Homo sapiens: one gene and its partner. The protein of the gene in region 1 purifies or fractionates together with the protein of each later gene. This does not show direct contact. Each region holds a gene or a part of one and is shown on either strand. Other genes may lie near its edges.

Region 1 (16,206 bases):
GTGGCCCTACCTGGCTCTCCATCTTCACCTGCTTCCTAGTGCTCTCCCGCTGCTACAATCCATTAACCCTGGCTGCCTCTGTATCCCTTAAACACCTCAATTTCTGCCCACTTCAGCCCTCTCTACTTGTTCTTCACACTTTCTGGTTTGCTCTCTCCCCAGATCTTTGTGGGCTGGCACCTCCTTCTCATTTAGGTCTCAGCTTAAATGTTACCTCCCTAGAAGAGTCCTTCTTGATCACCCTACCTAAAGAAACCTACCCTAGACTCCCTTACCCCATTCCCTGTTTTTTTCTTCAGACACCACTATCTGAAATGATATCATTTCTTTGTCAATTATCAGACTTCCCATTAGCACGTAAGCTGCATGAGAGCCAGGACCACTTTATTCACACTGTATCCCCAGCATATAGAGCAGTGCTTGGCACATGATTAATATGTATTTTGAATAAATGAATGTTTTCTGTTCAGGCATACCTGGCTGGCAGAAACTGATGTGAAACATGCAAGAGTTTCTACCTAAAGCTTCAGTCCTGACCACAGAATAAATGATTACAAGAACATTACTTTGAGTCCTCTCTGGGCAAGGTGGCTACCTGGATGACAGGGATGGAAGAGTATTTCCTCTCCAGTCGGCGTACGTAGGCTGCAAGCTCCAGGGCCTCTTCATAATAACTGTTCCGGACACAGGTGTCCATGAGCTGAGGAATCTCCAGTATTTCCAAAATTTCTGTGTGCCGGTTTAGGGTCAGGCTATTCATCCGGCGGTTGGAGCTGATCTCCTCGGCTTCCTTCACAAAGTTCCTAGTAATAATCAGAAGAATGTTGATCCTTCACTGCTCTGTACCCAAACCTTAGCTACAGTTACCAAGTACCTGCTATGAACATTGGGCTGGATGATCTATCTGATTTATTCCTCACACCCCACCTATAAGGTAAGTATTATTACAATTGAGGAAATTTTTAATCCCAGAGAGGTTAAGCAACTTGTCCAAAAACATACAATTAATAAATCTAACAGATGGAGATCCAGATATGCCACTTGCTGGCTGTGGCAAGGTACTTGGCCTCTCTGAACCTATTTCCTCATTAGTAAAACGGTATATAGGGCCAGGCGCAGTGGCTCACGCCTGTAATCCCAGCACTTTGGGAGGCTGAGGTGGGCGGATCACTTGAGGCCAGGAGTTCAAGTGAAACCCCATCTCTACTAAAAATACAAAAAATTAGCCAGGCATGGTGGTGCGCGCCTGTAGTCCCAGCTACTCAGGAGGCTGAGGCAGGAGAATCACTTGAACCCAGGAGGTGGAGGTTGCGGTGAGCAGAGATGGCGCCACTGCACTGCAGCCTGGCCAACAAAGCAAGACTCCGTCTCAAAAAAAAAAAAAAAAAAAGTATATAGGACCCTCCTCATAAGGGTGTAAGAACTAAATGAGATGATGTGTGTGAAGCATTTAACATAGAACTTGAAACAGAGCGAATGCGTCAAAGTAAAAATAGTAAAAGAGACACAGTTAAATATTTAACAGTAGCTATCATTATTTTCAAAATGAAGCACTAACTGCCTAGAATCCACAATCTTTCCCCTCAGGTCTTCATCTTCTCCTATGCTAATGTTCAACCATAGTTCCTGCCACAGTCTACTTTCAACACTTCTCCATATTTGCAGAGACCTGCTTTATCAAGTCCCCTATCTATTCTGGAGCATGGAAGGGTACAAAAGCTGCTGTCAAATATCCAAAGGCTCAAAAGAAAAATTAAACTTTAATCATGAAAGGCTGGAAGGCAGAACTAGGGATAATGGAGACAGAATATGACTCACAAAGGACTTTTTTTTTTTTTTTTGAGACGGAGTCTTGCTCTGTCACCAGGCTGGAGTGCAGTGGCACGCATCATCTTGGCTCACTGCAACCTCCGCTTCTCAGGTTCAAGTAATTCTCCTGCCTCAGCCTCCCGAGTAGCTGGGACTACAAGCGCGTGCCACCACGCCCAGCTAATTGTATTTTTAGTAGACATGGGGGTTTCAGCATGTTAGCCAGGATGGCCTCGATCTCTTGACCTCGTGATCCGCCTGCCTTGGCCTCTCAAAGTGCTGGGATTACAGGTGTGAGCCACCGCACCCAGCCTTTTTTTCTTTTTTTAAGAGAGTTTCACTTTGTCACCCAGTCTGGAATGCAGTGGCACAATCACAGCCCACCGCAGCCTCGACCTCCCAAACTGGAGTGCGGTGGCACAATCATGGCTCACTGCAGCCTCAATCTCCCGGGCCCAACTGACCCCCCCACCTCAACCTCCTGTGTACCTGGGACTACAGGCGCACGCCACCACGACCAGCTAATTTTTTATTTTATAGAGACAGGGTTTTGCCATGTTGGCCAGGCTGCTCTCGAACTCCTGGGTTCAAGCCTCAGGCTCCCAAAGTGCTGGGATTACAGGCTGAGCCACCACATCCAGCCATCCAAATGGAGAGACTTTTTGATATCTGATGCCCTCAAATGCGAGGATTTCCTTGTCACCTTCCCGTCAATGGAAGTTTTGAAGCAGATGACCTCCGGTCCACGCTTTCGTATAAAATAAGTATATAAATGTGCACATATATTCAGCTCACACCTATAATGTTAACTGTGTCAGACCCGATAATAAGAGCTTTGCATGAATCCTTTTTCTTTGTGCCCACAACTGCCCTTCGAGGGAGGGACGTGCTTCTGGGTAACCAGTTCTGAATTCGAAACCTCCTAGCTGTGTCCTTGGACGTCACTAATCTCTGTCTTGACTTGCTCATATGTAAAATGGAAATAACAGGGCTGGGCGCAGTGGATTATGCCTGTAATCCCAGCGCTTTGGGAGGCCGAGGCGGACAGATCACGACATCAAAAGATCGAGACCATCCCAGCCAACATGCTGAAACCCCGTCTCTACTAAAAATCCAAAAAAATTAGCTGGGCGTGGTGGCGCGCGCCTATGGTCCCTGCTACTCAGGAGGCTGAGGCAGGAGAATCGCTTGAACCCAGGAGGCAGAGGTAGGTTGCAGCGAGCCGAGATCTCGCCACTGCACTCCAGCCTGGCGACAGGGCGAGACTCCGTCTCAAAAAAGATAAAAAAGGAATAACAGTACCTATCTCGAAGGCTGTTGTGAGGTTTAAATGGATTAATAAAGCGCTCAGCAGAGAACCTGGAACGTGGTAAACGCTTTATGTGTTAGTTATTTCTACCATCGTAAATGTCAGCTTTTACAGTTATAAAACCCCTTTAGCGCCAGGCGCGTCGCACCTGCAGCTCTGCTGGAAGCTGGGCAAACGGTCGAGCAGGCGGCCGAGCGACGCCTCCACGTCGCCAAACAGGCGGTGGATGCGCTCGGTGCACTCGGCGCCGCGGATGAAGGTCTTGTAGTTAGCGAAGGCCAAGTCGCGCGTCTGCTGCAGCAGCTGCGCCCGCTCCTCCGCCAGGCGCTCGGGCTCGCGCCGCAGCCGCTCCAGCCCCGAGCCGCTCAACTCCCGGAGGTAGCGGCCCACATCGGGCCGCTCGCGCCACTGGGCCTCGGGGAAGCGGTCCCGGAACAGCGACGCCAGGAGCCCTTCATCCTCCACCTCGCCGAGAGCCGCTGCTGTGGCCGTGGCTACCGATGGGATAGTCGCCGCGGTCGCCATCTTCCCAGCAACAACGTCACTTCCCTTCCGGACCACAAGGGGCGCTGACTCCGAACTTAGGACAGGAAGAAACAGGCACATTTCCGGTCTCTATGCTTTCTCATCCGGCCGGCTTGCTTTCCCCTGCGGTCGTCCAGACTATTGGGCGCTAGCGAGACGAACTATTGGTACGGGGCTAGAGAGGAAGGCTTTGGGATTGCCGGGGAGCAGCGAGCGACCGACTTCCGTTTCCAGTTACCAAGGCACGAGGATCCGGTGTTCCAACCCAGGGGGAAAAATGCGGCCTTTGACTGAAGAGGAGACCCGTGTCATGTTTGAGAAGATAGCGAAATAGTAGGAGCGCGCGGGGCGGACGCGGGAGTGTGTGGGTGTGGTGGCCAAGGGTGGAGTGGGGGCGCGGTGCCGGAGACCGGTTCGTTCGGGCGCGGTCTCCAGTCCTCTTTTTGCCCTCAGCATTGGGGAGAATCTTCAACTGCTGGTGGACCGGCCCGATGGCACCTACTGTTTCCGTCTGCACAACGACCGGGTGTACTATGTGAGGTGAGGCGGGGCCGGGCAGGCAGCATGGACCCAGGGGAGAGGGGTCCTGGGTCCCACGAGCCTCCTTCATCCGCAACCTTGCTCCCCCTTTACCCTTTTAGTGAGAAGATTATGAAGCTGGCCGCCAATATTTCCGGGGACAAGCTGGTGTCGCTGGGGACCTGCTTTGGAAAATTCACTAAAACCCACAAGTTTCGGTTGCACGTCACAGCTCTGGATTACCTTGCACCTTATGCCAAGGTTTGTGGGGCGGTTTCCAATTCTGCCACGGGCGATGAAGTCAAGGATTAGGCAGATTGTCCGGCAGCTTCTCTCCCACAGAGTCCCTGACAGTGTGCTTGGAGGAGTTTCAGCACATGGAGATGTGTAGAGGTCTTGCAGCTTGAGCATGGTCAGGGCTATGGGATAGGAATGCTATGTGGCTGCGTAGGGTTAGTTTTCTCCAGCGAAGTAGAAGAGCCTAGGGAGACCCAGCTAGAGATCAGAAAGCAAATAAGTGGCAGCAATGAAGACACCGGGGTCCAGAAAAAGAGCTGTTAACCTGGCCATGGAGGATGATCCTTGTAGAGTTGAGAAAATAACTTTTTCTATTTTTTTCTTTTTCTTTCTTGCTCTGTTTTTTCTTTTCATTTCTCTTTCTCTTTCTTCCTGACACAGTTTCACTCTGTCGCCCAGGCTAGAGTGCAGTGGTGCGATCTCACTGCAGCCTCCACTTTCCAGTTTCCAGTGATTCTTGTGCCTCAGTAGCTGGGATTACAGGCATGTGCCACCACACCTGGCTGATTTTTTTGTGTGTTTTTAGTAGAGACAGTGTTTCACTGTGTTGGCCAGGCTGGTCTCGAACTCCTGGCCTCAAGTGATCCACCTGCCTTGGCCTCCCAAAGTGCTGGGATTACAAGCGTGAGCCACTGCACCGGGCAACTTCCTGCATTTCTGTTCAGGAGATAGACAGTTTGAGGAAAACATGAGTCTCTCTGTTTCCCTTAAAATTATTTCAGAAAATTATTCACAGATCCAGCAGCTAGCTTGTCTGCATGGATAGAAATAGTAACGTTTTTATGTCTCTTGGATTTTAATTCTCTTATAGTATAAAGTTTGGATAAAGCCTGGTGCAGAGCAGTCCTTCCTGTATGGGAACCATGTGTTGAAATCTGGTCTGGGTCGAATCACTGAAAATACTTCTCAGTACCAGGGCGTGGTGGTGTACTCCATGGCAGACATCCCTTTGGTGAGTAGAGATGGTAGCTGTTACAGAACTCAAGTACTCTTATTCAAGAAGGGTATGTCTTCAATCTGAGTGCTTGAGAGAATAAATTCTCAGCACGTTTTGAATCCCAGAAAGACCAGAACTGTATTTTTTCCGTCTTTGTTATTTCCAGCCCTCAATATGGGCATATTGAATGACTTCAGTGAGTTAGTGTCTCTTCTTTTGAATCCCAGGGTTTTGGGGTGGCAGCCAAATCTACACAAGACTGCAGAAAAGTAGACCCCATGGCGATTGTGGTATTTCATCAAGCAGACATTGGGGAATATGTGCGGCATGAAGAGACGTTGACTTAAAACGAAGCCATTCCAAGGACAGACGGCTGTATGGAAAGGCCGAGCTTTGTTTCCTGTGTTTGTGTGGACTCCACCATCATGTTGAATTTTGTCAACACTCTGGCCTCTTCAGGGACTTCTTATTTACTGTACTCTCTATCACTGACAAATGCAGGCTGGATTCTTATTATATACAGAGATGGCTCAAAAATGGGGTTTCAGATCTTTGTGACGAAATAGAATACTGTTTCATATTTGAATCAGAGGGCTTCTTGTTCTGAGAAATAGGTTCAAAATCATTGGAACCAGGAACAAGAATAGCTTATTGTTATCTGTGATAACACTGTTTTCTAAACACAAGGATTTTCTTTTTTATTAATATGCAACATAGACATTGCCATAACAGAATAATAAACCACATGTGGGGTTTTAAAAATGAAATTTGGCTAATAGGAGCAATTCAGCTATTTTTCTATACAGTAATTGGTGTGTGGTATAGAAGAAAAACGGGTTCAAACCCCACTTCTGCCACCTACCAGCTATATGGCCTTGAATGAGTCATTCAGCTTTAATAAGGTTCATTTTCTTCTGTTTAAAAAGACACAAAACTTGAAAATCAGCTTTGGCCATCTACCTGAGAATTAGAAAGTCTGATTTTTGGAATTAGAAATCATGATTGTAGGCTGGGCACAGTGGCTCGCGCCTGTAATCCCAGCACTTTGGGAGGCCAAGGCGGACGGATCACTTGAGGTTAGGAGTTTGAGACCAGCCTGGCCAACATGGTGAAACCCCATCTCTACTAAAAAAAAAAAAAAAATTAGGTGTGGTGACACATGGCTGTGGTCCTAGTTACTTGGGAGGCTGAGGCAGGAGAATGGCTTGAACTGGGGAAGCAGAGCTTGCAGTGAGCCAAGATGGTGCCATTGCACTCCAGCCTGGGCGTGACAGAGTGAGACTCCATCTGATTGTAAAGCATCTAGTACAGTGTACAGTGCCTTGGAAATGATAGGTATGGAATAAATGGTAATTATTTTTATATTATATATATTATGTATTCCTGTTATTAAGTGTAGAGTTTTATGAGTATAATTTGATTTTATTACCTTCTTTTTTACAAGCTGTTTTCTCAGTATTTTTCTTGGATGGGATGACGCTAGGCTGGAAAGTTTTTTTCATCACTATGATTTTATAAAACAATTTTTTCTATGAACCTTTACTTACTTGACTGGATTGGACTAAAAGCACTGATCAGAGGCCACGACATAAAAATTCAGTCCCTTTGTCCTTCCCCGTGCCTCCCAAAGTTACTTTAAGATCCTTAGAATATTTCTTTAAATATTTTATAGACAAAAAATTTAAAGACTATCTGTATTGCAAAATTAAACTATTTCTTTAATGAATATATTGCTTATTTTAAGTTCCAAAGGTGAAGTCTTTAAGAATAAAACATTACCAACTCCTGCTTTTATATGTAAGCAAACTTGATTGTGGCCTTTTTCAACTCATCTTCCTTCTAAGGTTTTCTGTTAGCCTCTAAGTAGACTCAGTGAAGGCTAAGGGACTGCTATATGATGAACAGTATTTTGATGCATACATTTAATACATACTTCTTCAGAACTTTTTCACTGTTATGATTTTATTGCCATTTTGCTTTTTTAGATGTGTGCAGCAGACTAAAACATTAATGAGATAATTGATTTTTGTCCCATAACATTACAAAGCTGATTCGACTAAGCCCCAGAAGAAAACAGCCAGGGTGCTATAGTCACCTTAGCTTAGCATCTTGGCTTCTTTGTATCTGTAGTTGTTGGAACATTGAAGAGACGCTTCAAGAAATACAGTTGCAGGATCCCAGAAAGAATAATAACAAGGCTCTGGGCTGTCGACCACCAGTTCACGTAGTTATAGTTTGATTGGATAAGGAAAAAGTCAGCCATTTTCCTCATCCGGGCAAAGTTGTAGTATCGCCACATGTGAAAGATATTGTTCTGCACCTTTTGTGTGCCGTCCTATGAGAGAGACAATTTTAAGGGGGATTCTTCCAAACCCCCATCTAGCCTCACCTGAGCGCTCACTAGCACTAACCTATCTCAAGTCAAATAATTTACCCATATGATTTTAAGATGTACAATACAATGATAGTTGTTAAATGTTGTGTTTGCTATGTATGAAATATGGTCTGGATTTGAGTTTAAAATTTTTGTTTTTGTTTTATGAGACAGGGTCTCACTTGTTTGCCCAGGCAGGAGTACAGTGGCGCAGTCACAGCTCACTGCAGCCTCAACCTTCTGCGCTCAAGTGATCTTCCCACCTCAGCCTCCCTAGTAGCTGGGACTACAGGCACATGCCACTACACCCAGCTAATTTTTTTTTTTTTTTATTGTAGAGACAGGGTTTTGCCATGTTGCCCAGGCTCATCTCGAACTACTGGGCTCAAGAGATCCACCCACACTGGCCTCCCAAAGTGTTGGGATTATGGTCATGAGCCACTGCCCCGGCCTTTTGTTTTGTTTTTAAATAATGGAAAACTTCAGTACTCAAACTAGAGAGCTCTTCCAGAGGACCTCTAGATTTAGATGTACTCAGCATGTCGTTACCATTCCAGGTGATGTTTTATGTTCTCTGTATATGGTAGAAGACAAGGGCCTGTGGACTTTTTATTAAAAGGCCAGATGGTAAATATTTTTGGCTTTGCAGGCCCCTGTGACTGCTGAACTCTTGCCATTGTAGTACAAAAGCAGCCACAGACAATATGTAATTGTCAAATGAGCATGGCTGTGTTTCAAGAAAACTTCCATTTACAAAAACAGGCAGTGAGCTTTTGTGCATTTAGGAGAGACTATTAAGAAAGTGAAAAGTGGCCGGGTGCAGTGGCTCATACCTGTAATCCCAGCACTTTGGGAGGCCGAGACGGGCGGATTACCTGAGATCAGGAGTTTAAGATCAGCCTGGCCAACATGGTGAAACACCGTCTCTACTAAAAATACAAAAATTAGCCAGGTGTGGTGGCACACGCCTGTAATCCCAGCTACTCGGGAGGCTGAGGCAGGAGAACTGCTTGAGCCCGGGAGGCAGAGGTTGCAGGGAGCTGAGATCGTGCCACTGTACTCCAGCCTGGCCGACAGCACAAGACTTTGTCTCAACAAAAAAAAAAGAAAAAAAGAAAGTGAAAAGTGGCCGGGCACGGTGGCTCGTTCCTGTAATCTTAGCACTTTGGGAGGCCAAGGTGGGCAGATCACCTGAAGTCAGGAGTTCAAGACCAGCCTGGCCAACATAGTGATACCCCATCTCTACTAAAAATACAAAAATTAGCCAGGCGTGGTGGCACCCGCCTGTAATCCCAGCTACTTGGGAGACTGAAGCATAAGAATCACTTGAACCCGGGAGGCGGAGGTTGCAGTGAGCCAAAATTGTGCCACTGCATTCCAGCCTAGGTGACAAAGCGAGACTCTGTCTCAAAAAAATATAAATAAATAAATAAATAAAAATACAAAAGTTAGCTGGGCATTGTGGCACACGCCTGTAGTCCCAGCTACTCAGGAGGCCGAGGCAGGAGAATCGCTTGAACCTAGGAGGCAAAGGTTGCAGTGAGCCAAGATCACGCCACTGCACTCCAGCCTGGGAGACAGAATGAAACTCCGTCTCAAAAAAGAAAAAAGAAAGTGAAAAGACATTGCCAGAATGGGAGAAAATATCTGCAACTCACATATCTTAGGAGGGATTTGTATCCAGAATATATAAACAAAATTCAACAATAAAAAGACAATTCAGGCAGGGTGCGGTGGCTCACGCCTGTATTCCCAGCACTTTGAGAGGCTGAGCTGGACAGATCACAAGGTCAGGAGTTCAAGACCAGCCTGACCAACATGGTGAAACCCCCGTCTCTACTAAAAATACAAAATGTAGGTGGGCGTGGTGGCACGTGGCTGTAATGCCACCTACTCAGGAGGCTGAGGCAGGTGAATCACTTGAACCCAGGAGGCAAAGGTTGCAGTGAGCCGAGATCACACCACTGCACTCCAGCCTGGACGACAGACTGACTCTCTCAAAAAAAAAAAAAAAAAAAAAAAAAAAAGTAAAATGGGCAAAGGATTTTCATTTTTTTGAGATAGGGTCTCACTGTCACAGCCTTGACATCCTGGGTTCAAGCAATTCTACCTAAGCCTCCCGAGTGGCTGGGACCACAAGTATGTGCCACCACACCCGGGTCATTTAAAAAGTTGTTTTGTTTGTAGAGACAGGGTCTTACCATGTTTCCCAGGCTAGTCTCAAACTCCTGGGCTCAAGCTATCCTACCTCAGCCTCACAAAGTGCTGGGATTACAGGTGTTGGGCCAACTGGCCTGGCCTAAAATGGGCAAAGGACTCGAACAGACATTTCTCCAAAGAAGAGAGATGGCCAATACGCACGTGAAAAGATGCTCAACATTATTAATCATTAGGGAAATGCAACTCAAAACCACAAGATAACATTTCACACCCACTAGGATGACTGTAACAAAAAATAAGTGTTGATGAGGAAGTAGAGAAATTAGAACCTTCATACACTGCTAGCAAGAGTTTAAAATGGTTTAGCCACTGTGGTAAACAGTCTCCAGTAATTCCACTTTCAGGTATACACAGATGAAAACATGCTAACACAAAAACTTGCATGCAAATGTCCATAGCCACGTTATGATAGCCAAGAGGTGGAAAAACCTAAATATCCATCATGTCCATTAACTGATGAATGGATAAATAAAATGTGTATCCATAAAAGAGAGTATTATTCAGCCATAAAAAGAAAAGTACTGATACATGCTACAACATGGATGAACGTTGAGAACATGCTAAATTAAAGAAGCCAGTCTTGGCTGGGCGCGGTGGCTCATACCTGTAATCCCAGCACTTTGGGAGGCCGAGGCGGGCCAATCACCTGAGGTCAGGAATTTGAGACCAGCTTGGCCAACATGGTGAAACCCTGTCTCTACTAAAAATGCAAAAATTAGCCGGGCATGGTGAGAGGTGCCTGTAATCCCAGCTACTTGGGAGGAGGAGAATCACTTGAACCCTGGAGGCAGAGGTTGCAGTGAGCTGAGGTTGCGCCATTGCACTCCAGCCTGGACAACGAGCAAAACTCCGTCTCAAAAAATAATAAAAATAAGCCAGTCACAAAATCCCATGTACTGTGTGATTCCATTTAAATAAAGTGTATAGAGGCCAGCCACAGTGGCTCAAAGTGCTGATTAATCTCGGCACAGTAGCTCATAATGCTGAGTAATCTCAGCTCAGTGGCTCAAAGTGCTGAATCTGAGCACTTTGGCAAGCCGAGGTGGGAGGATTGCTTGAGCGCAGGAGGTTGAGGCTGCAGTGAGCTGTGATCAAGCCACTGCACACTGCAGCCTGGACAAGAGTGAGACCCTGTCTCAAAAATTAAGTATAGAATAGGTAAATCTATAGAGACAGTAGAACAGTGATAGGCAGGCCTGGGGTAATAGAATGGAGAATGACTAATGGGGAGTGGGATTTTGAGGGTGGGGTGGGTGATAAACTTCCAGAATTAGATGCTGATAGTTGCACAGCCTTGTGAATATACTAAAAAACCACTGACTTACACACTTTTAGATGGTGTACGGTGTATGAATTATATCTCAATTTAAAGAAAAACAGGCAATGGGCCAGATTTGGCCTGTCAGCCATACATAGTTTGCCAACCCTTGGTATAAAACGAAGATGGAATTTCAAGAGCTTCAAGTCGTAATTTATTTTGAGACGGTGTCTTGCTGTATCCCAGACTGGAGTGTAGTGGCGTGATCTCGGCTTACTGCAACCTCTGCCTCCCAGGGTTCAAGCGATTCTCCTGCCTCAGCCTTCCGAGTAGCTGGGATTACAGGTGCGCACCACCACGCCCAGCTAATTTTTGTATTTTTAGTAGAGACAGGGTTTCACCATGTTGGAAAGGCTGGTTTCGAACTCCTGACCTCAGGTGATCCACCCACCTCGGCCTCCCAAAGTGCTGGGATTACAGGCGTGAGCCACCGTGCCCAGCCAAGTCATAATTTATGAAGAAATTCACATCCCCTTGCCTGTTTGGTTTCTACCTAAATGAAGTCATCTTCCCTCTGAAGTTAAAAATCAGTTTCCACAGATGTTTCTCTTCCACAAAACACTTCCTTACCTCAATTGCATCCAGAGTATCATTCAGTTGTTTTCTTTCCTTCTGTTTGTGATCAGTCTCAGGCCCCTCATAGAAGACCCCAAAGTTGAGGTACACTTGCACAGAACCGAAGTGATTATGCTGATTACTTAGACAAAGCTGATAAAAACCTGTAGGAATTCTTAGATCATTACCAAGTCTTTGGTCTCCTCCCCTTTGTTAAGGATTCCCTGGAGGTATCTGTCCTCTAGTTTTGGAATTCTACTACAGGACCTTCTTTTTACTTAGAAAGTACAAAGATCCCGTTTTTGACATGGAAGACACGGACCTTATGTTAAACTTATACTAAATATTACTTATTATATTTGGCCAAATTTTAGTAACTCGTTCTTTCCATACTGGGTAGTGGCAAACAATGTTTTCTCTTTAACATATAATTCCCACATCTTGTATTAAGGAACTCCTGCTCAACAGATTGAGTTGAAGTTAAGAGCATGGTGTTTGCCTGGTCCTTGTATACAATTAAAGCTAGGGACACCATCTTGAACTTGAAATTAGGAAAGACAAAAAAAAAAAATAGATGCATAGTGCATGAAAGCAGCTCTCCTGGAGTGATTGCCTCCAAGGCGGTGTGTACAGTGACTCATGGTTTGGTTATATCTGTTGGGGCTGGGGTTGCCTCCCTTTGTGTGTGCGGGGGGGAGGGGGGCGCGGGGTGGGGAGCGGGTGGGAAGGAGCAAGGTGGAGAGGACCGGTAGAAGATGGGTGGGGTGGGATTAGAAAGGTGTGGCAGTGTTTGAAAGTCAAAATGATTGGAAGGCACTACTGGCATGTAGGGGCCAAAGATGTTCAAGATCTTTTTTTTTTTTAGACGAGTCTCGCTCTGTTGCCCAGACCGGAGTGCAATGGCGCGCTCTCGGCCCACTGCAGTCTCTGCCTCCAGGTTCAAGCAATTCTCTTGCCTCAGCCTCCCAGGTAGCTGGGATTACAGGCGCCTGCCACCACACCCAGCTAATTTTTGTATTTTTAGTAGAGACGGGGTTTCACCATATTGGTCAGGCTGGTCGCAAACTCCTGACCTCAGGTGATCCGCCCACCTTGGCCTCCCAAAGTGCTGAGATTACAGGTGTGAGCCACCACGCCCAGCCTGTTCAAGATCTTTTAACACTGATACACATGCTGTGCTTCATAGTGAAGGACTGTCTGATGCCCCTGTTGAGAAAATGTCTTTTTTAGTGCAGCTGGCTATTAAAGAGGGCAGTTAAGACACTGCTGCTCTCCAAAGTGGGACAGGCTTGACCTGGCTGGAGGAGTGCTTTGCTGTGGAGTGTGGATATCTCACATGGATATCATGCATTTTCTTTTGTTCTGAATCTGCTTTTAGTAACTGACTCAAATATTCTGATGACTGGAAAGACATGCTTCCCTGTAATCCATTTGTTAATTGGAATTCTGTATTATAAATGGGTCTCTGTTTTTTGGTCACTTTCCCAGAATCTGATTAACTGGAGATGATGAGATAAAATTGAGCGGCTGAACCCTAGACTTAGAATGCTCACCTGGAGTGTTGCCCCCAAATCGTCAGTAGACTGCCACTTGGCATCCTTGGAGGTCAGCAGCCTCCAGGAACACTGGTTTTTGGTGTTAAAGGCTGAATTTTTTTCCTACTGTTAAAACATCTCTGTATACTTCCTCATTATTTCTGTAATTTCATAGGACCCTATGATTATTATAATAGCCATGGTAATGAAAACAGACCTGTCTCTTGGGTAGAGAAGTTAATCTGGCCCCGAACACCCTGGGAGGTGTCTATGAGAAATCCCTGTGGGTTATGTGCCGTGGCAGCAACATGCCGGTCATGTGACATCCCCACTGTCCGCTGAACCTGCCAAGACACATTAAATAGGTAGCAGAACCCCTGCTACATCACGAGGAAGCCAGCTGAGTGGTAAGATTGACGTCCCACGGTCATCAGCACAGCGGTCTCTGTCTGGGGTGGGACTGCCCAACCCCCTGCTGGGGTTTGGAGTTGATTGGAGGATTCTGAGGTATCACAGTGATGGTGTTAAGGGGAGGCAGCACAGCATTGCTGAACGTCTGCAATGTAAGAAACAGTACAGCAGGACAAAGAACTGCCCAGAATGCCAACAGCACCCGTGTGAAGAAGACATGCCTTGCTCGGAACACACAGCTAGTGTGGATCCACTAAAATGTATGATTCTGGGCCGGGCGCGGTGGCTCACGCCTGTAATCCCAGCACTTTGGGAGGCCGAGGTGGGCAGATTACAAGGTCAGGAGTTCGAGACCAGCCTGGCTAACATGGTGAAACCCTGTCTCTACTTAAAAAATACAAAAATTAGCCTGGCATGGTGGCGTGCGCCTATAATCCCAGCTACTTTGGAGGCTGAGGCAGGAGAATTGCTTGAACCCGGGAGGCAGGGATTGCAGTGACTCGAGATCATGCCACTGCACTCCAGCCTGAGCGACAGAGCAACACTCTGTCAAAAAAAAAAAAAAAAAAGTACGATTCTGGCTGTAGAATTTTTTATTTTTTTTGAGACGGAGTCTTGCTCTGTCACCCAGGCTGGAGTGCAGTGATCTTGGCTCACTGCAACCTCCACCTCCCAGGTTCAAGCGATTCTCCTGCCTCAGCCACCCAAGTAGCTGGGATTACAGGCACATGCCACCAAGCCCGGCTAATTTTTGTATTTTTAGTAGAGATGCGTTTTCACCATATTGGCCAAGGTGGTCTCGAACTCCTGACCTCAGGTGATCCGCCTGCCTCAGCCTCCCAAAGTGCTGGGATGACAGATGTGAGCCACCGCACCCGGCCTGGCTGTAGAGTTCTTGAATGAACTTGCTTGGTGGTTGAGCTCCCCAATGATGTCCCAGATTTGGGCATTTGCTGCTTGGCAGTGCACACCTACAACAAGCACTCCATGGACACTTGCTCCCAAGCTAGATCTTGATTAGGCCAGGCCACAGTGAGCTTAGTAGTGGCTGCTGTTCTAATAGAAATTCAGAGGTAAGAAAAGTCTCTGATAAGTTTATTTAAAATAAATGTTGTTACAGTGGAGTAAGATCAACAAAGTCTATTACTATGTAAACAAAAATTAGAAAGTTAACCGATTTCTAAGATAAAGAACAAAGGAAATGAACAGCCTCTAACTTTCATACTGAGTTCACCATCCTTGGACAGCATGATATAAGACCATAGTATGGGTAAAAGTACTTGACCTTTGAATAAGTAACTTGAAAACACTTACCGTCCTAAAAAAAAAAAATAGGATTAACTGGCCGAATACAAAAAACTTGACCTAGTGAATCTCTGACTTGCCAGAATTGCTCCTAAAGGCAGCAGAACCTTTACTCCCCCACCCCATAAGCTGAAGCAGCCTTCTTTGAAATCTCTGGATCAGTCTCCAAAGCACCATTATCCAATTTTGTTTTAATATATTAAAAATGTATTCTCTCCCCTCTCATCCCCAAATCCGAGTACATGTAATGATTACCTCTTCAGGGAGAGGCACCCCGTCTGCCCCATGGCTTTGAGCATGGCCCCTGATGTAAGAAGCCAAACCATATGTTTTAGCTCCTGTTGGTGATTATTCACCCAGCTGGAGTTTCCCTCTAACTGCAGGTCCATTTCATTAACAGGTGGGGAATCACAGCATAATAAAGACAACCAGACCTTGTTTTGGCCTAAAACCTGACCCACTTTATGAGTAAAGGAGAAAAAAAAAAGCCCCCCAGTATGGCCAGTCACCCACATACCTCGTAACTGAAATAGAAGTATCCAGTCTGGTGGGCAAATTGCCAAAAGCATTCCGTGCCTCCTGGAGGTATCATGATGGCAAAGTCATATCGATCAGCTCCACGGAAGAGTGGCTGGTCCCCAGAGCCACTTAGAGGTTCTGTCTTCTGGCTCCTGGCAGACGTCACTAGATTCAGAACGACCAGCCCAGCCCCAAAGAGCAAAGGGGACATGCCGCTTTCTGGAGCCTCCTCTGCAGGTGAACTGCTCGCAGCCCAGGGAAATCAAGTCGTTCAGACAACCGCTGGGCTAATGATTAACTCCACAAGTCACATTACGGCCCATTTCAGGGCCACACATAGATATTCATCATAGAACTGCCATGATACTCCCATGTTTGGCTCGCAGGAGGAAATTTTGCTTTCACCTCAAAAACTCAGTGGCTTACCAAACCTACTTCATGGGTGCTACATAGAATCTACCACCTCAGAAGAGGTCTTTCCACCCTTCATTAGGGCTGTCATTTTTTAGTTCCTGCTTCTTGGGGATATAATAGTGGGTAAGTTTACAACTTCTGAATACACTGACAAAAAGT
Region 2 (12,186 bases), on another chromosome or scaffold:
CTATCTGTTTTGTATGCTGGTATAAAAGAACTGTGTCTTATTATTTGTTTCCCTAGTGCTTGGCAGTAAATGTTTGCTGAACACATGCTGCTACATCATGCAGTAGACAGTCAGAGGCTATTGCTACATGTAATTAGGTGTCAGTATAAACACAGAATAATGTAAAAGAGGAAGATCAGAATGAGCTGGAGTTATTAGAGAAGGGAGAAGATATGGCTCTTGAAAGGGGTAGCTGTCAGTTGGGAGGAGTTATAATCTCCAGATTATAAAATCATTTTAGAAAAACTCCATTTTATGGATGTTTCCGATGTTAACCGATAACTCATATTCCTTTGCTGCTTGGTAATGTTCCCAGTAATTTTTACTTTTTCCCATATAACTTACTTTCAAAAAGCCAAGCCAGCCTAGAAGGGTAAAGATGCATAACTGTGAACAGAATTAGCTATGGAACCTTAACATGCAGATGAGGAACAGGGGTGAGAGTGTAATGACAGCAGGAGGCAGTGCGTCTTTTTTTCAGTGGGCACAGATTCTGCACTAGTGTTTTCAACTTTTGTGGTAGTGAACACCTAGAAATCATAGGCTCTGGAGACCCATCCTTAACTGGAGAAATTACAGAAAATTTTAAAGCCTCAATTTTATAAGGGCACTATATACCCTTGTCTGATCACAGTGCAATAATGACATATTTAATTTAAAACTAATTTTGTTAGCAAAAAGCTCATTCAATGATAGGTATGCATTATAAATTCACAGCAGGCACAGCTTTTCCTGACAGAAAAATAGTCTGTTGAACTTAAACATGATAGCCTTTTCAGATGTTCCTTTAATAGTCGTTTTCCAAGGGATTTGTTTATTTTGTGATCTGTTGGTACTTTTACCAAACAAGAAGCAGCAGGACTGAGAAGACTTGACAAAAGAAAAACTTTTAATTGAAAACTTTTTTCTACCAACTTGGTTTAAAAAAAACTAATTGGGAGAAGAATGTCATCTTTCATTTCATTTTAGACACAGATCACGCAGGAACTGGGGTTTTGTGGCAGCATAGTTGAGGGTATTGCTCTAAGAGCAAAATATGGTTCTGTGGTCATTGATACTCCTTTGCCTCAGGGTGGCAGAGTTGAGACAACACAGCATTCTGTCAAGTATTCTTTGAATAACTTCCATTTCCTTTTGGAAGGATTAGATAATCAGTTGAGCTGGTGGGTAGATGAGGACTGGGCATAGATATTAATCACAGTATTATTTGTTGTTTGTTCTGAGCTACATTTTGAGCTAGGGAATTTTTTTTTTTTTTTGACCGAATTTCACTCTTGCTGCCCAGGCTGGAGTGCAATGGCACGATCCTGGCTCACCACAACCTCCGGCTCCCAGGTTCAAGCGATTCTCCTGCTTCAGCCTCCCGAGTAGCTGGGATTACAGGCATGCACTACTATGCCTGGCTAATTTTTGTATTTTTAGTAGAGACAGGGTTTCACCATGTTGGCCAGGCTGATCTTGAACTCCTGACCTCGGGTGATCTGCCTGCCCTGGCCTCCCAAAGTGCTCGGATTACAGGCATGAGCCACCCTGCCCAGCCTTATATTATCTCATTTTGGCCTCACCTCAGTGCTCAGAGACCTTGATCTACTGTTTCGTTTTATAGATGAAAAATTGTGGCTTTAAAATTTTATGTAATTTCTCCAGTTAGGGATGGGTCTCCAGAGCCTATGATTTTACTATTACCCACCCACCATCTTGTTCCCTTGGACTTTTCTTTCCCTATACTAGGCATTGTAAAGCTGCGGTGTGGGCAGTTTCCATCCGTTTTCTATATGTGTGGTTATGGGATGAGGATCATAATTCTTTCCTTTTGGAGAATTATGAGCCTACCTCTTAAAAAGAGTGGGTTGTACTGTTAACCATTGGTTGTTCTTTCAGTTTGAGCTGCTGAAGCATCAGAAACTCAAGGACCAGAATATCTTTGTCTCCCGAACCAGGCTCTGCCTGCACAATCTCCCAAAGGCTGTAGATGACAAACAGCTCAGAAAGCTGCTGCTGAGTGCTACTAGTGGAGAGAAAGGGGTGCGCATCAAGGAGGTGAGACGTGGCCCTGACCATTTTGGAGCTTTCATTCTGATCTTGGGTCAGATCAAGCATTTCCCTCAGGCTGTGGTGCCAGATTTTGTTTGTTTGTTTTGAGACGAAGTCTCACTCTGTTGCCCAGGCTGTAGTGCAGCGGTGCAATCTTGACTCACTGCAACCTCCTCCTCCTGGGCTCAAGCAGTTCTCCTGCCTCAGCCCCCTGAATAGCTGGGACTATAGGCGTGCGCCACCACGCCTGGCTAATTTTTGTATTTTTAGTAGAGAAGGGATTGCACCATGTTAGCCAGGCTGGTCTCGAACTCCTGACCTCAAGTGATCTGCCCACCTCGGCCTCCCAAAGTGCTAGGATTACAGGCGTGAGCCACTGTGCCGGGCCATCAACAGACTTTCTTCTGGACATGTTGTCAGCATGCATAGCTGAGTTTAGCAGTTTCTTGGTTTTGTTCTTTTTCTTCTAAGAATTGTCTTTTACATCTGACTGAATTACAGCAGAATGCAAGGAAATCTCTGTCTGCATGAATTAATTTAGCAAGCATTTATTAAATGCCTGTTGTGTGCTTAGCATTATACTTTGTGCTATCATGTGAATTTTCTTGCAGAGAAAATAATCTGCTTTGCTTTTTGGAAGAGTATTTTACTCCTAGTTAGATTCTTACCCTGTGTTCAGAGTCCCCTATGCCTTGTGGTCAACACAGGAAGCCATGTAGATGTTCAGCAGTTGAATTAGAAAAACACTGGGTTCACACCAACTTGGTTAGACTCTGTGTGAGTACAGAACTTTTCTGCCTCCACATTCCCCTTTGCGTATTTCTCTTTTCTTTTTTTTCTTTTCTTCCTTTCTTTTTTTTTTTTTAGATGTGGTCTTGCTCTGTCTTTGGCTGGAGTGCAGTGGCACCATCTCGGGTCACTGCAAACCGCCACCCCCCCCCCCCCCAAGCTCAAGCAATCCTCCCACCTCAGCCTCCCAAGTAGTTGGGCCTATAGTTACACACCACCATGCCTGGCTAATTTCTTTCTTTCTTTCTTTTTTTTTTTTTTTTTTTTGAGACGGAGTCTCACTCTGTCGTTAAGCTGGAGTGCAGTGGCATGATCTCGGCTCAACGCAACCTCCGCCTCCCGGGTTCAAGCGATTCTCTTGCCTCAGCTTCCCGAGTAGCTGGGACTACAGGCATGCACCACCACGCCCAGCTGATTTTTGTATTTTTAGTGGAGACGGGGTTTCACCATGTTGCCAAGATGGTCTCGATCTCTTGACCTCAAGTGATCCGCCTGCCTCGGCCTCCCAAAGTGCTGGGATTACAGGCGTGAGCCACCTCGCCCAGCCCATGCTTGACTAATTTCTTGTTTTTGGTAGAGACAGGGTTTTGTCATGTTGCCCAGGCTGGTCGCAAATTCCTGAGCTCAGATGATTCCCCTGCTTCGGCCTCCCACAGTGCTGGAATTATAACAGTGAACCACTGGGCCTGGCCTTGCATATCTCTGTCATACTGGTTACTATTACCCTGGCCTCAAACTGTCTGTCAGTCACTTCTCCCCACTAGACTGAGTTTTTGAGGCAAGCGTTATCTCATTATCCCCAATCCTTGGTGTAGTACCTGGTACATAGTCATCTCTTAGTCAATATTTATTTTAAAAGTACCATTGCCAATATTTTGGGCCTGCTTTACTCTGTTTCGCTACCATAAACTGTTTTCCTAATCCCTGAAAACCTCTTCAAAATGTATGGATTGGTATTTGGGAGATTACTTGAGAGAATGTGAATATATCAGCACATATCTGACACCACAGTTAGTAAAACTGCTCAGTGTTACTGGTTATAGGGGAGGGACAGTTGTGTAATTTCTCCTATCATCCGAATACTTAGTGCCTACATATTTAACACCTGTCATAATTTAGAGAAATTTATGTTTATTCTAGAATATTTTGCATTATGTTGAATTTTCCTCTTAATTCTTTCCTATTTGTATGTATAGTGTCTCAGTAAGATGGTAAGCATCTTGAGAACAGGATCTTCATTATATGCTTCTCTTGATTCCCTTACAGTGTATGACAGTTCTAGGCACAGAGTGGACACTGGACATAAACTAAATGCGGCATCCATGCATCCCCAATACTTAGCTGTTTCCATTACATGAGAACGACAGCTTTGGTAGTAATGGCATGTAAATGATCAGTTTTCTCGAAAAATCCTACCATACTTTGGTGCCCCAGATGTTTACTACATCTGGCTTAAGGATTTAAGGGAAAACCACACTAGAGAGGATCTGAGCTGCAAGCAAAGAGAGCTGAAACTTCTTCCTATATTTCTGACCCTGTATGTTGGAGAGACTTTTTCCTATGCTTGAAATGTCTTTCTTATCTAAAGCCATCAGGCCTTCCTCCTTTCCTTCTTCAATAATTTCCTTCCTGAGGGCTTTTTTCAGTTGTAAGATCTGTGGACAGTACTCCATCCTCGGCAGCAACTTGTTACACGCTTAAAATACCATGTACCTCTCAATTTGTATGTATCGCAAACAGTTGTGTTTGTATTGTGTTTGTTTTTTAACATCCATACCGCTTTATAAATTTTCTTTAGGAAGTTTTGTTTATGTGCTTTTTTTTAGGTCTCTGTTGATGTCTATAAGCTAGTAGAAAGCAAGAAAATACAATTTTAATCTGTTTGATGGTCTTAGTAGGTAAATTCTAATAAGATGGACACACATAAGTGTTATTCCAGTGTGATTTTTGTGATGGTGGTATAAATGAAGATTATGTTTCAATAACCTGATTTTTTTTTTTTTTTTTTGAGACAGGGTCTCACTCTGTTGCCCAGGCTGGAGTGCAGTGGTGCCATCATGGCTCACTGTAACTTCAACCTCCCCGGGCTCAGGTGATCCTCCTGCTTCAGCCTCTTGAGTAGCTGAGGTGCCACCACACTGGCTAATTTTTTGTATTTTTTGTAGAGACAAGGTTTTGCCATGTTGCCTAGGCTGGTCTCAAACTCCTGGCCTCAAGCAATCCTCCTGTCTCGGCCTCCCAAGGTGCTAGGATTACAGGCATGAACCACCATGCCCACCCAATAGCCTGATTTCTTATTGACTCTATTAAAGCAGTTCATGTCAGGCAAGTCTTCTCATTCTGTAATTACTGATTTTTTTCTTGCTCTACTCATAGTGTAGAGTGATGCGAGACCTCAAAGGAGTTCATGGGAACATGAAGGGTCAGTCCCTGGGCTACGCCTTTGCGGAGTTCCAAGAGCACGAGCATGCCCTGAAAGCCCTCCGCCTCATCAACAACAATCCAGAAATCTTTGGGCCTCTGAAGGTAGGCCTTGTCCTCTGGGGAGACTTGTTCCCTTAGGACCACTTGCAGGAAACCAGCCTTCTCCTTTATGCCTAGTGTCCTCTGACATTTGAGGGGTGGGAAACAGTGGCAAGTGGACAAAAAAAAGGTGGGTTGGGGGAGGATGTGTGAAGGGGAAAAACTCAGCTCATTGCATGCACAGATTAAGAAGTCTAATGAATGGCATTCTGTCTCCCTCTGACAGAGACCAATAGTGGAGTTCTCTTTAGAAGATCGAAGAAAACTTAAAATGAAGGAATTAAGGATCCAGCGCAGCTTGGTACAGAAATTAAATGGTCCATATTTTTAAGGACATAAACTCTTCTATTTTGTTCAATTTGTGCTTCTGCTCTCTTAGAGTAGTTCTCCCCTCAGTTAGGTTTTTTTGCTCCTAGTTCCCTTTACTCCCAGTTCCCTAAGCCTCTCCAGGCCATCTTCTTATCTGCTGGCCCATGTCTGATAGCTCTACAGCAGAAGGGAAAGGAAGGAGAGAGGAAGCAGACCAATGTTATTTCCAGTCAGCCGTTTTTTACAGTGTTTGGTGATAGTACGTGCCAAAATTAATGGTTGAGGTTAAGGTTTCCCATTACCTGTAGATTTCAGTTATCTCTTCCATATTTTCTTTTATTAGTTGGCTCCAGAAGTGTGAAGCCTGATAGTTTTAGTACTGTTTTTAATCTGGTGTGGTATAGAAGGTGGAGCAGGGACTTTAGGAATACGTGTACTCATGCTCATACTCTGGCTCTGCCCTTTTTGCTGCATGTTCCTTGGCAGTTATTACCGCTCTGAACTTCAGTTTGTAAAATGGGGTGGACAACATCTGCCTCACATGATTGCTGAGGACTAAATGAGATAATACATGTCCATCGTCTAGCATACTGCATGGTCAGCACGCAGTCAGTACTCATTCTCTTACCCATCTTCCCCCAGGACATACAGGGCCAGATTATTCTTGACTCTGTCATTCTTAGAGCTCTCATTGATATTGCACAGCAAAGTTCCCTTGCATATACAGCAAACATTTGTAGTCTTTGTGGTATATACCAAGAGGATTACCAACAGACGAGCCATTCTGGTGGTTAATGCAGTGGCCCTAGGTTGGAAAATCTGGGATCTGGTTATTGTTCAAGGCAACTTTGTTCCCCAGATAATAGAATTGTTTATTACTGTTAGCCATTGTTTCAGAGGTGATTCTGAAGCTACCAGTTTTGTTTGTTTTTCTGTTTGAGATGGAGTCTTGCTGTGTCGCTCAGTTTGGAGTGCAGTGGCACAATCTCAGTTCACTGCAACCTCCACCTTCTGGGTTCAAGTGATTCTCTTGCCTCAGCCTCCTGAGTAGCTGGGACTACAGGTGCACACCACCATACCCGGCTAATTTTTGTATTTTTTTAGTAGAGACAGGGTTTCACCATGTTGGCCAGGCTGGTCTCGAACTCCTGACTTCAAGTGATCCACCTGCCTCAGCCTCCCAAAGTGCTGGGATTACAGGCGTGAGTCACTGAGCCCAGCCTAGTTTGTTTTTTAACATCCAAATTACTTTATTTGTTGCCTGGATTTATATTCATACTGTTCTTTCTGTGTAAAAATGCCTCTACTCACTTTGCATATGCAGATCAAATGATCTCTTTCAAGTTGCATGCCTCCACCTCTCTCAAAAGATATAAGGCCCTCTTTACTTGATTTTCATGAACTTCCTTAAGCTGTGTAGTTTTTTTTACTTTGGTTTATTTGTGAATGCATCTCTTATCTCCACCTGGCTGTGAGTCCTGAAGGGTAGACACTATTTTTTTGTATCCTGGAAACAGACTGGCACACACTAGGCATATAATAAATGTTCATTGTATCGTTGTACCTATCTAGATTTCTAAGGTGAAAGGGAAGAACAACACACACTTATCATTACATTAATTTCACTTGAATCTTCTGTTTCTTCCACTTCAGTGCAAATACTTCTATAACTTCCTTGATGCCTTCCTTCCCACAGCATCTTTTTCTTGTCGTCTTTACTTCATTTATTCCATTCCTGATGTTCTTCCTTTCTTGAAAACGATCAGTTTCTGACCTATGTCATTTTTCTTCTCTCTGAAGAGATTATTTCGCATTTCTTGCAGACAGGTCTACTGGCAACAAATTCTCTCCATTTTCTTTTGTCTGAGTAAGTCTTTTCCTTCACTTTTGAAGGATAAGTTTATCGGATACAGGATTGTAGGTTGGTGATTTTTTTTTCTTTTAAAAATTTAAATATTAAATATCTCACTTCACTCCCTTCTTGCTTACATGGTTTCTGAAGAGAAGTCTTGGAAATCTCTCTCAATCTACTCTGGTTTGGGAGGGTGCCTATTAAAAACAAAAGAGAGAGAGATTTGATGTAATCTCATCCTTGTTCCTCTATAGGTAAAATTTTTCCCCTGTCTGGCTTCTTTCAAGATTTTATCTTTGATTTTCTGCAGTTTGTCTATGATATGACTGGTTGTAAATTGTTTAGTATTTATCTTATTTGGTCTTCTCTGAGTTCCTAGATCTGTGGTTTAGTGACTGTCATTAGTTTTGAAAAATTCTCAGCCCTTATTACTTCATTATCTTTTCTGTTGCTTGCTTTCTTCTTGTATTCTCCTTCTACATAGGTTACACCTTTGATAATTGTCCCACCTACTGACTTTTGAATTTTGGGCATGCACTCTCCCTTATTTCTGTGTTATGGGAAGGGGAATGGTTATTTTGTGCCCCCCACCCAGTAACCATCTGTTACTGTGGCAGGGCTTGTGATCTACATGTATTCACTTTCCTCTAGTCTCCAATTGTGTGGGGGAAGAATTCCTCTTCTTTCATCTAGCTCACATAAAGCTCATCTTCTGCTGAGTATTTGCAGCAAACAAAGCTCATCCAGAAACCAGATGGCATTTTCTTGTTTTATGCAGCAAAAAATGAGATCCAAGCCTGCAACTGGTGAGCCTCAGAAGGGGCAACCAGAGCCTGCAAAAGACCAGCAACAGAAGGCAGCTCAACACCACACAGAGGAACAAAGCAAGGTGCCCCCAGAGCAGAAGAGAAAGGCGGGCTCTACCTCATGGACCGGGTTCCAGACCAAGGCTGAAGTGGAGCAGGTGGAGCTGCCTGATGGAAAGAAGAGAAGAAAGGTCCTGGCGCTCCCCTCACACCGAGGCCCCAAAATCAGGTGAGATGCAGGAGGGCAGAAGCACAGAACAGTGGGTGGGTTCTAAGCGGGTTTGTTTTTGCTGAGTTATTTTCTCTTTGTGGCATTTGTTTGGTTGAAAAGGATGTTTGGTGCTATGTATTCCCACACATGGGGTTAACACGCGAGTCTTCAACACCATCAGAGATGTCACTCTTAGATCAATGGCAGAGGGGCCTCCTAGGGCAGGCTTTTGTGCCCCTTTTCTCCTCTTTTGAAGAGCTTCCTCTTGTCCAGATGGCCATCTCTGCCAGCTGAGACCACATACTTGAGGTTCAGTTGTAGTTTCTGTTTGGGACAGCAGATTAGTGCTCTACAAAAGTAAATCTTTACAAAATATTTGTTAAATAAATGAAGGTTTTTGAGATATCCATGGGGTTTTATTTATTTATTTATTTTATTTTTAGAGACAGTGTATTATTCAGTTCTTCCACTGCTATAAAGAAATACCTGAGACTGGGTAATTTATAAAGAAAAGAGGCTTGGCTGGGCGCGGTGGCTCACGCCTGTAATCCCAGCACTTTGGGAGGCCGAGGCGGGTGGATCACGAGGTCAGGAGATCGAGACCATCCTGGTTAACATGCTGAAACCCCGTCTCTACTAAAAATACAAAAAATTAGCTGGGTGCGGTGGCGGGCGCCTGTAGTCCCAGCTACTGGGGAGGCTGAGGCAGGAGAATGGCGTGAACCCGGGAGGCGGAGCTTGCAGTGAGCCGAGATCACGCCACTGCACTCTGGCCTGGGCGAAAGAGCGAGACTCCGTCTCAAAAAAAAAAAAGAAAAGAAAAGAGGCTTAATTGGCTCATGGTTCCACAGGCTGTACAGGAAGCATGACAGCAGCTGCTCATCTTCTAGGGAGGCCTCAGGAAACTTAATCATAGTGGAAGGTGAAGTGGGAGCTGGCACATCACATGGCCAGGAGCAGGGGGGAGTGTTTTAAACAACCAGATCTTGTGGTAACTCATTCACCGTCACGAGAACAGCACTGAGGGGATGGCGCTAAACCATTCATGAAGGAGTCATCCCCATGATCCAGTCACCTCCCACCAGGCCCAGCCTTCAACACTGGGGATTACAATTCAACGTGAGATTTGAGCAAGGACACAGATCCAAACCATGTCACAGGGTCTTGCTCTGTTGCCCAGGCTAGAGTGCAGTGGCATGATCATAGCGCACTGTAACCTCAACTCCTGGACTCAATCCACCTTCCTCAGCCTCCTGAGTAGCTGGGACTTTTTAATTTCGTTGTAGTAGAGACGGGGGATTGCTATGTTGCATAGGCTGGTCTCAAACTCCTGGCATCAAGCAGTCCTAAGTATACAAATGTTGAGCTTTCAGAGGGTCTGTTGCAGTATCCCTTTTTAGAATGACTTCACTTATCATGGGCTTGGGAAGGGCCAGTGTACAAAGAGAACCTAGGGGTGTCAAATTAGAAGAAGGACTCAAGGTGACACTCAGCCATGTTATTTCAGGTTGCGGGACAAAGGCAAAGTGAAGCCCGTCCATCCCAAAAAGCCAAAGCCACAGATAAACCAGTGGAAGCAGGAGAAGCAGCAATTATCGTCCGAGCAGGTGAGTTCTGCAGGACATACAGCTTTGGTATGGCATGGTTCTGCCAGGTCGTAGCCATGTTTGTACCTTGGTTAGTTGAGCAAAAAAGAAAAAAAGAAAGACTTCTGTGTAGGACGGTAGCTTTTTAGAGAATGTTGAGCTATACAATCTTAAAAGTGGAGAGAAAAAAGTAAAATGAACCTCCACGTATCTGTTCCTGTGTTTCAGCAGTCTCCTTGTTTTACATATTCCCCATAACATGCTTTCCCCACTAGAGTATATTAAAGCAAAGCCCATTTCACATGTAAATGCGTCTCATATGAAAATGAAACATATTGCTCAGAAAAACCTCAGAGTGCATCTCTAACTGATCAGGCCTTAAACACACACACCTTATGCCATTATAATATCTAATGAAACTAATAAGCCCTTTATCATCTACTACACAAATGATATATTAAATCCATATTAAAATTTGCCAAATTGCCTGAAAAAAATTTTTTTATACTTGGTTAGTATGAGTCGGGATCCAAAGTCCCACATTATACTTGGGTTTTTAATTTCTTAAATCATTTTTTTCTTCTCTAATATCCATTCTCCCTTACCACCCTTTTTTCCATGCTATTCATTTATTGGAGAAACCAGGTCATTTGTGTTACATTTTTAATTTAGCCATTTGCTTCTTTGTGGTGTCATTTAACTTGTCTCTGTGACACCCCCATATTGCCTGTCATCTGGTAGTTAGTTCGGTCTGGTAGCTTGATCAAGTTCAGTTTTCTTTTTTTAAAAATTTTTTTGAGGTGGAGTTTTGCTCTTGTTGCCTAGGCTGGAGTGCAATGGCGCAATCTCGGCTCACTGCAACCTCCGCCTCCAGGAGTAGCCTCCCGAGTAGCTGGAATTACAGGCATGCGCCACCATGCCCAGCTAATTTTGTATTTTAGTAGAGACGGGGTTTCACCATGTTGACCAGGCTGGCCTTGAACTCTTGACCTCAGGTGATTCGCCTGCCTCGGCCTCCCAAAGTGCTGGGATTACAGGTGTGAGCCACCGTGCTTGGCCTCAAGTTCAGTTTTCTTGAAGAGAGTATTTCATAGGTGGTGTGTGTGTTTCCTTATATCGCCTGAGGCACATACTACCTGGTTGCCCATTTTTAGTGATTCTGGGATTGATCAGTAGATTTGAGGATTATCTGCCTTATCCCTCCATTGATGAAGTTCCCAATTAGCCTTTCATGTAATGGCCTTAGCAGTTATTGATGAGTGTTACCAGATCCATTATTTCATTATGGGTTACAGAATGCTGATTATTTAAACTTCTATCCTTTTGCATTTTTAATTAGAACCCTAGAAAGAAAAATCTTCCTTTGTCAATTATTTGCTTACCACAAAATATCATTTATGTAGGAAAGACAGGATAAATGCTTGATTTTTTTTTTCTCTCTCTCTGTTAGTTTTCAGAGTAATGAGCTGTTGCCATACTGGCTCATTTTTTAGTATTATGAAATCCTGAGTTTTCATATGCTTGATGTGTTTCAAATACTGTCATTATTCTTACTCTGTGTAAGGCTGGCAGAAGCCCCTGCAGGTTGGCTTCTGAGTCTTTCTGATGTGGCGTATTTGTCTGGTAGTATCCTTGCTTTCTAGTGCAGGATGTCCCAGGCTCAGCTCAGGTACCTCTTCCCCAGTCCTGACATTAGCCATTTTCCCAAGGAGCCTTAGTTCCTTTTAGTAGAAAACGGTGGTCCTACATTCTTGAACACTTGAAGTCAAGCTTGCTTCTCCCCTTCCCTAGTCTCTTTCCTTTAAGGGTAAAAGCAGCATTAGCTTCCCATCCTACTCAAGAAATCTGTGTCTGGGAAGTTTCTGACGTATACCGTACTATAGTATAGAGATCTCTGAAATCCCATGAGCAGTGTTCTTGGGGAGGGAACAGGCAAGCAAGAATGGCCGGACTCTGTGCTGACTCATCTGCTTTGAGGCTAAAGTGAGCCTTTGGGAGCTAGAGTAAGAGAGGCCCCTGAGTCCCCAGCAGACAGGG

The links.
Region 2: the proteins of NIP7 (region 1) and RBM28 purify together in Homo sapiens (affinity purification with mass spectrometry; 2 studies listed by BioGRID and IntAct, with this or other methods). This does not show direct contact.

The regions. Positions count from the first base shown.
Region 1 is NC_000016.10:69,335,910-69,352,115, forward strand, and holds NIP7 (60S ribosome subunit biogenesis protein NIP7 homolog), read left to right. Parts: upstream 1-3,862; 5' UTR 3,863-3,920; coding exon 3,921-3,976; intron 3,977-4,096; coding exon 4,097-4,183; intron 4,184-4,284; coding exon 4,285-4,423; intron 4,424-5,270; coding exon 5,271-5,411; intron 5,412-5,623; coding exon 5,624-5,743; 3' UTR 5,744-7,197; downstream 7,198-16,206. Other genes in the region: COG8 (conserved oligomeric Golgi complex subunit 8), read right to left, coding at 596-803, 3,267-3,643; TMED6 (transmembrane emp24 domain-containing protein 6 precursor), read right to left, coding at 7,498-7,731, 11,879-12,027, 13,616-13,742, 15,632-15,844.
Region 2 is NC_000007.14:128,311,159-128,323,344, reverse strand, and holds part of RBM28 (RNA-binding protein 28), read left to right. Parts: intron 1-1,920; coding exon 1,921-2,079; intron 2,080-5,238; coding exon 5,239-5,388; intron 5,389-5,611; coding exon 5,612-5,686; intron 5,687-8,324; coding exon 8,325-8,581; intron 8,582-10,070; coding exon 10,071-10,170; intron 10,171-12,186. UniProt on the Homo sapiens protein: Nucleolar component of the spliceosomal ribonucleoprotein complexes.